2 linked regions of the Homo sapiens genome follow. The protein of the gene in region 1 purifies or fractionates together with the protein of each later gene. This does not show direct contact. Each region holds a gene or a part of one and is shown on either strand. Other genes may lie near its edges.

What was found.
Region 2: the proteins of C6orf15 (region 1) and FBXO21 purify together in Homo sapiens (affinity purification with mass spectrometry; one large-scale study listed by BioGRID and IntAct). This does not show direct contact.

Annotation. Positions count from the first base shown.
Region 1 is NC_000006.12:31,110,723-31,113,820, forward strand, and holds C6orf15 (uncharacterized protein C6orf15 precursor), read right to left. Parts: upstream 1,854-3,098; 5' UTR 1,834-1,853; coding exon 1,767-1,833; intron 1,570-1,766; coding exon 659-1,569; 3' UTR 501-658; downstream 1-500.
Region 2 is NC_000012.12:117,183,971-117,187,470, reverse strand, and holds part of FBXO21 (F-box only protein 21), read left to right. Parts: intron 1-899; coding exon 900-994; intron 995-3,500. UniProt on the Homo sapiens protein: Substrate-recognition component of the SCF (SKP1-CUL1-F-box protein)-type E3 ubiquitin ligase complex.

The DNA.
Region 1 (3,098 bases):
AAGTCTGTGGTTCTGTGGGACACAATGTGCTAAATGATGCCTGTAAGGGAGGAGGTCGATGTACCTCCACTTCCAAGAAGCTTGACTTTCCGGGGAAGAAAAGACAAGTGAAGCGTAGACATTGCGACTTTTGGCTTCCTGTTTCTGTGAGTTGCAAGGAATCCTGTCCACCTGGCCCTGGAGCCGCCTTCTGGGACCTCATCCTTGCCCCCTGCTGCAGGTGCCATCTCAATTAGTCCTGCTGTCCCTCCTCCCCCTTTCAGATTCCAGCACAATTCTGGAACAGCTCTCCCACCTGGCCGGGGTGAGACTGAGGCTCCACCCTCAAGCACTTGGGCACTGATCCTTTGTGAAGGATGGGGATAGCAAGACAGCGTCTGCAGGGGCCCCTAGAGGGCCGTGGGGATGGCTAGAAAACAGGAATGAACAGACTCACTTCAGCTTATGCCCAGACTCACTTCAGCTTATGCCCAGAAACAAAGAAACCAAGGAGAAGCAAATTCCATAAGTGCTTTTATTTTATTGGAGATGAGCAGGGGAGGCACTGAAAAGTGGGGATAGTGCTGGAAACATGCTGACAGGGCCTGGATTGAGCCCACACAGCAAGGGGCGGGAGCAGGACTCTAACTCCCAATGTTGGGTTTCCCTCTATCGTGCTCTAGCCCCACTGCAACCTAGGGCTTGGAGGATTAGGGAAGCCAGCTGGGATGTTCCAAGAAGAGCCAGGAGGGCGGAGGACTCCAGGAGGAAATGGGTTATTGATACCTGGGTATAGATGAATATTCCCCCAGCTGCCTCCTGGATACCGATTAATATTCCCCCAGCTGCCTCCTGGATACCGATTAATATTTCCCCAGCTGCCTCCTGGATACCGATTAATATTTCCCCAGCTGGTACCTGGGGGTTGATTATTGATACCCCAGATTCCCTCAGGGTGTGGCATGGGCCTCGTTCCCCAACCAGTCCCAGGGCCTCCACCTCCCCAGGACACACTGGGATTCAGGGTACCCCAGGGGTGATCAGGCAGAACCCTGTGGATGAGAGACCAGGGAGGGCGTTGGGAAAGGATTTTTCCCCCGGCTCCCAGTGAATTAGAACGGGGCAGTCGTCTGGACTCCGAGTCCTGGTGGAGGAGTGAAGCCTTGGGTGAGAGGCCTGTGGCATCGGGAGAAGACTCCCCAGGCAAAGGGCCACTGCCCGGAGCGAGGGCCGCAGCACTGGAGAGGTAAGAGAGTTCTTCAGGCAGCGCTTCCCCCAGGCGGTCCTCAGCCGCAGCAGCCATCATCTGCCAAGGATCCTCAGGGGGCCAGGAATCCATGGCAGGCAGCCCCCACGATGGAGGCCACCTCTGCACTGCAGAACCTCCTGCAGGTGGGAAGCCATCTGATGCAGGCACGCTGAGCTTCAGAGGAACCCTTGCCAAGTCATTAGACCTAGGGTCCAGAGCGGGCTGCGGATGTTCAGAGTTAGAGGGGCCAGTGGAGGAAGGTTGTCCGAGCTGAGGCAAGTTGGTCCCCAAGTTTTGGGAAACTTTCTCCTCCACAACACCGATGCTCCGGGCAAAGAGGCCTGAGGGAAAGGGAAGATAAAGCAACCAGTGGTCTCCAGTCCCCGAGTCCCCAGTTCCCTTTGCTTCCCCTATGCCTATTCTTCCTTTTCCCTCAGGGACCTAAATGTGTACCCTCCTGCCTTTACCCCTTTCCTTAATTCCTGTTTCCTGGGGGACCTCCAGTCCCTCCTGCCCAAGGGCATCACGGCCTCCATACCTGGGAGATGAAGACAGACCAGGAGCAGGCCCAGAGGAGCGCAGCTCCCTGCCACGCGGCCCTGCATCCTGCTCAGCACCCGATCTCCCTCAGCCCCAAGACAGCCAGCCCTTTATCCTGGTAGTGGGGTGGGGGACAGCAGAAACAGGCTGGGCTAGTGGTTGTGAAGACAATAAACCTCCACATTCCACCCTCATTCCTAATGTGGTCTGTGGCAACAGGTGTCACTTGAATGAATGTCCCAGAGGAAGCTGGGTGTCTCCCGCCCTGGCTCCTTTCCTTGACCTCCCTGCCCCTTCTTGGCCCAGGTGTCCTGGCTCACAGCTCATCCCTGGTTGCCAGCCTCCCCAGCCCTGCTTCTCTATACACAAGGACCTCCACCCTGGGGTCCCACTCTCTTAATTGCCTCTCTCAGCAACAGAAACACTTGTTTCTTTTTGGGAGCTGGATTGTTTCCTCCCAGCACCCCTTTCTCATGCATCCTCATATCTCCTTCACCTTGGCCCCAACCTGCAGGAGGTTCTGGGGTGCAGAAGTGGCCCCATCTGAGGAGCTGCTCCTACATGAGACCCTGGATCTAGCTAGGGAAATGGACCTGGATGCCATCCTTATGAGATACTGACTAATTCCTGCTGCTGCAGTGACAAATTACCATGAACCGAATGGCTTACAACAACATGGATTTATTACTTTACAGTTTTGGAGATCAGAAGTCTAAAACAGGTCTCAGTGGATTAAAATAAAGGTGTCAGCAGGGCTGTGATTCTTTCTGGGGGCCTCAGGGGAAAATCCCTTTCCCTGCTTTTTCACCTTCTAGAGGCATCCTGTGTTCTTTGGCTCATGGTCCCCTTCCTCCATCTCCAAAGCCAAAATCAGCCATTTCTTACACTGTATCACTCAGACTTCCTCTTCTGCCTCCCATGTCCACATTAAGGGACCTGGTGACTACACTGGACCCACCTGAATAATCCATGATAATCTCTGTGAAGTCAGCCGAATAGCAACCTTAATCCCATCTGGAACCTTAATTTCCCTTTGCCATGTAACCTAATTCCTACGTTCCAGGGATTAGGATGTGGACATCTTTGATGGTGTTGGGGTTGAAGACATCATTCTGCCTGCTACTGGTGGTCAGATGTGCCATAGAGTATAAGAAACCTTGGGAGAAAGTGGCTATTTCCAAGTAACAGTAGAGGAGAGCCTTTAAATGCTGCTGTCAAATGGCCAGGACTTGATCCTTGTTGAAGCTGGGCGATGAGAATGTAGAGATTCATTAACAGTTTGTTGGCTTTTAAATATGTTTGCAAATTTTATTATAAAAATGCAATGGCT
Region 2 (3,500 bases), on another chromosome or scaffold:
ATAGAATTTTAAACTCAGAAGATCTTTTTTTTTTTTTTTTTTTTTTTTTTGAGACAGAGTTTCACTCTTGTTGCCCAGGCTGGAGTGCAATGGTGTGATCTCAGCTTACCGCAACCTCTGCCTCCCAGGTTCAAGTGATTCTCCTGCCTCAGCCTCCCGAGTAGCTGGGATTACTGGCATGCGCCACTACGCCTGGCTAATTTTGTATTTTTAGTAGAGATGGGGTTTCTCTATGTTGGTCAGGCTGGTCTCGAGCTCCTGACCTCAGGTGATCCGCCCACCTCAGCCTCCCGAAGTGCTGGGATTACAGGCGTGAGCCACTGCACCTGCCGCCGCCGCCTTTTTATTTTTTTTAAAACGGAGTTTCATTCTTGTTGCCCAGGCTGGAGTGCAATGGCGCAATCTTGGCTCACTGTAACCTCCGCCTCCCGGGTTCAAGTGATTCTCCTGCCTCAGCCTCCCAAGTAGCTGGGATTACAGGCATGCCTGGCTAATTTTGTATTTTTAGTAGACATGGGGTTTCACCACGTTGATCAGGCTGGTCTCAAACTCCTTACCTCAGGTTATCTGCCTGCCTTGGCCTCCCAAAGTTCTGGGATTACAGTCATGAACCACTATGGCCGGCCAGAGCTAGTTTTCTTTACGTTAGAACTGTGAGTTGTCAGTTTCAGAAATTCCAGTCTATGAAAACATCATTGATTACAAACAACAACAAAACCTCAGTAAATTATTGTTACTTTATGTTATTTTCTACCCATGACTGGTAGTGCAAGGTAGTGTAGAATAACTGTTAGCACTGTCTTTAGTAGTGGACATCTTTATTTCAGCTCAAATTTGTGAGAGTGAGAGTTGCATCAATACTCATAATTGAGGCCTACTTGTATATGTCTTCTTCATAGGTTCCTTGTAATGGCTTCAGTGACATTGAGAACCTTGAAGGACCAGAGATTTTTTTTGAGGATGAACTGGTGTGTATCCTAAATATGGAAGGAAGGTAAGCCATAGCTTTAGCAGGGATTTGTTTGCTTTAATAAGTCCAGAGTAAATTGCTGTAATTTCTGTGTGGCTAAACCCTGGAATATGTGATTCCAAATATTTCACGCCTTGTCATAGTTACAGTTTTGAAAAGTTCTGTGTATATTAGGTAGATACACCAAGACAATTGACATATAAAGAAACCTTACAAAAATCCTTTTGGAAAGAAAATGGAATTAATGTTTAGCACTACTATGGGTCAAATACTGTGCCCCAGACCCTTGTATCTGTTGTGTTGTTTAGAAACCTTTTGGTAATAGGCCAGGCACGGTGGCTCACGCCTGTAATCCCAGCACTTTGGGAGGCCGAGATGGGCGGATCACCTGAAGTCAGGAGTTCGCGACCAGCCTGGCCAACGTGGTGAAACCCCATCTCTACTTAAAAAAATACAAAAAATTAGCTGGGTGTGGTGGTACACACCTGTAATCCCAGCTACTCGGGAGGCTGAGGCAGAAGAATCATTTGAACCCGGGAGGTGGAGGTTGCAGTGAGCCGAGATTGCACCATTGCACTCCAGACTGGGGGACAAGAGCAAGACTTCGTCTCATAAAAAAAAGAAACCTTCTGGTAATATAAATCATCCTTCCTTCATTATTACCTCTCCACTTACTATCAGATTTGCCTATCATGAATTGAATCTTTTAATTTAAAAATAATAATTTCTTAGGCATGTCTTAATTTAATGGATGATTTTTTACAATTTCTGAATTGCGGTACAAAATAATCTACTTTGTTCTTTGAACACTGTAGATCTTTGGGTGAGCCTTTCTTTTATCTTCCAGTCAGAAAACTGCGTACTTAGGGACTCACTTGATCAAGAAGAACCCCTTATGTCTTGGTTATTGCTTAAAATTTCATATACCTTTTATTTTCTGCTGTGAAGGTTAATTTCCAGTTTTTCCCTGAAAGATGAGTGGGCTTCCAGCCTAACTTTCCTGTGGAAAAGACTTTCTGTTCTAAAAGTTCTGAAAACTTTCTAGTGATGGAAGATAAGAATGTTAGTTTAACATCTTCCTTAAAAGGAATCTTTGCGAAATATCTCACAAACAAGGCATGAAATATTTATGTTGTTTTTTAAAGGGGATTTAGGAGAGAGAAATATCTATCAGTGGAACAACTGTGGGTAGAGGTAAGATGTGTCACTATTCTAGGCCTTGGATGAGTTCAGATGCAGAGGTCATTTTTCCATTTCTATTTTGGTTTATCTATAAATGAATTGAAGTATGATCTAGTAGTCAGTATTGTGCAGTCTTAAAAATAAAAGCTGACTTGTGTTTTTTAATGTGCATATGTACTTTAAAATACATAAATGGGACCTCATACCTACTTTGTTGGTTGTTTTGGTTTGGTGTTTAGTACAGACCTGGTTTTTCTCTTATTTATGCTGTTTCCTTTTTCCTCCCCATTCCCTCTGTTTACATTGTCCTTTCCTGCCCCCACCTCTGTAATTCTTGATAACAGCCCAGGTTGCATTCTTCTTGCTGACAGTGATGAGTATGGGAAGGGATCATTATTGCACAAAATTGGGATCACATAATAGGTACTTTTCTATATTGTTTTTTCTCATTCAACAGTACCTTATGGAAATCCATCCTCTTCAACGGGTAAAACATCAAAATCACTATTGTTAATGTCTACTTACTCTTTTGTGGTATGTTACATAATTTATTTACTTATTTTTATTTTTTTGAGATGGAATTTCGCTCTTGTAGCCCAGGCTGGAGTGCAATGGCGTGATCTTGGCAACCTCTGCCTCCTGGGTCCAAGAGATTGTCCTGCTTCAGCCTCCTGAGTAGCTGGGATTACAGGTGCCCACCACCACACCCAGCTAATTTTGTATTTTTAGTAGAAACGGTGTTTCTCCCTCTTGGTCAGGCTGGTCTCAAACTCCTGATGTCACGTGATCTGCTGGTCTCGGCTTCCCAGAGTGCTGAGATTATGGGCGTGAGCCACCGTGCCTAGCCTACATAATTTTCCTATAGATGGACAACCACTTTTTTTTCCATTTTGTGTCACTGTGAGGAGTGATGTTTCTAGGCAGTAGAGTCCTGGGAATGGGTTTCCCAGTTCAGACTATAGGATGTTATTGAAAGACATAAAATAGATAGCATGTCCTGGAATGTGAAGACTTGCTATCACAAAAAATGTCAGTTCTCCCCAAATTAATTTATAAACCTAGTGTCATTCCAATTAGGATTCAAACAAAGTATTTTTGTTGGGGGTGGTGAGCAGGGGGGAGTTGTTTTGCTTTTTTCTTTTCTTTCATTTGGATGTCATAAAATATATACAGAAGACTAAATTCACAAGAAGAGCCAGAAAACAATTTTTCAGTAATCATAATGGGAAACTGGCATCACTAGATATTAGGCCATCTTATAAAGCTACTTATAATCCAAACAGCACAGTGATTCAATAAAAATAGCTGCATCAGTAGCAGAGGATAATTGACAAATGCATCCCAGAAT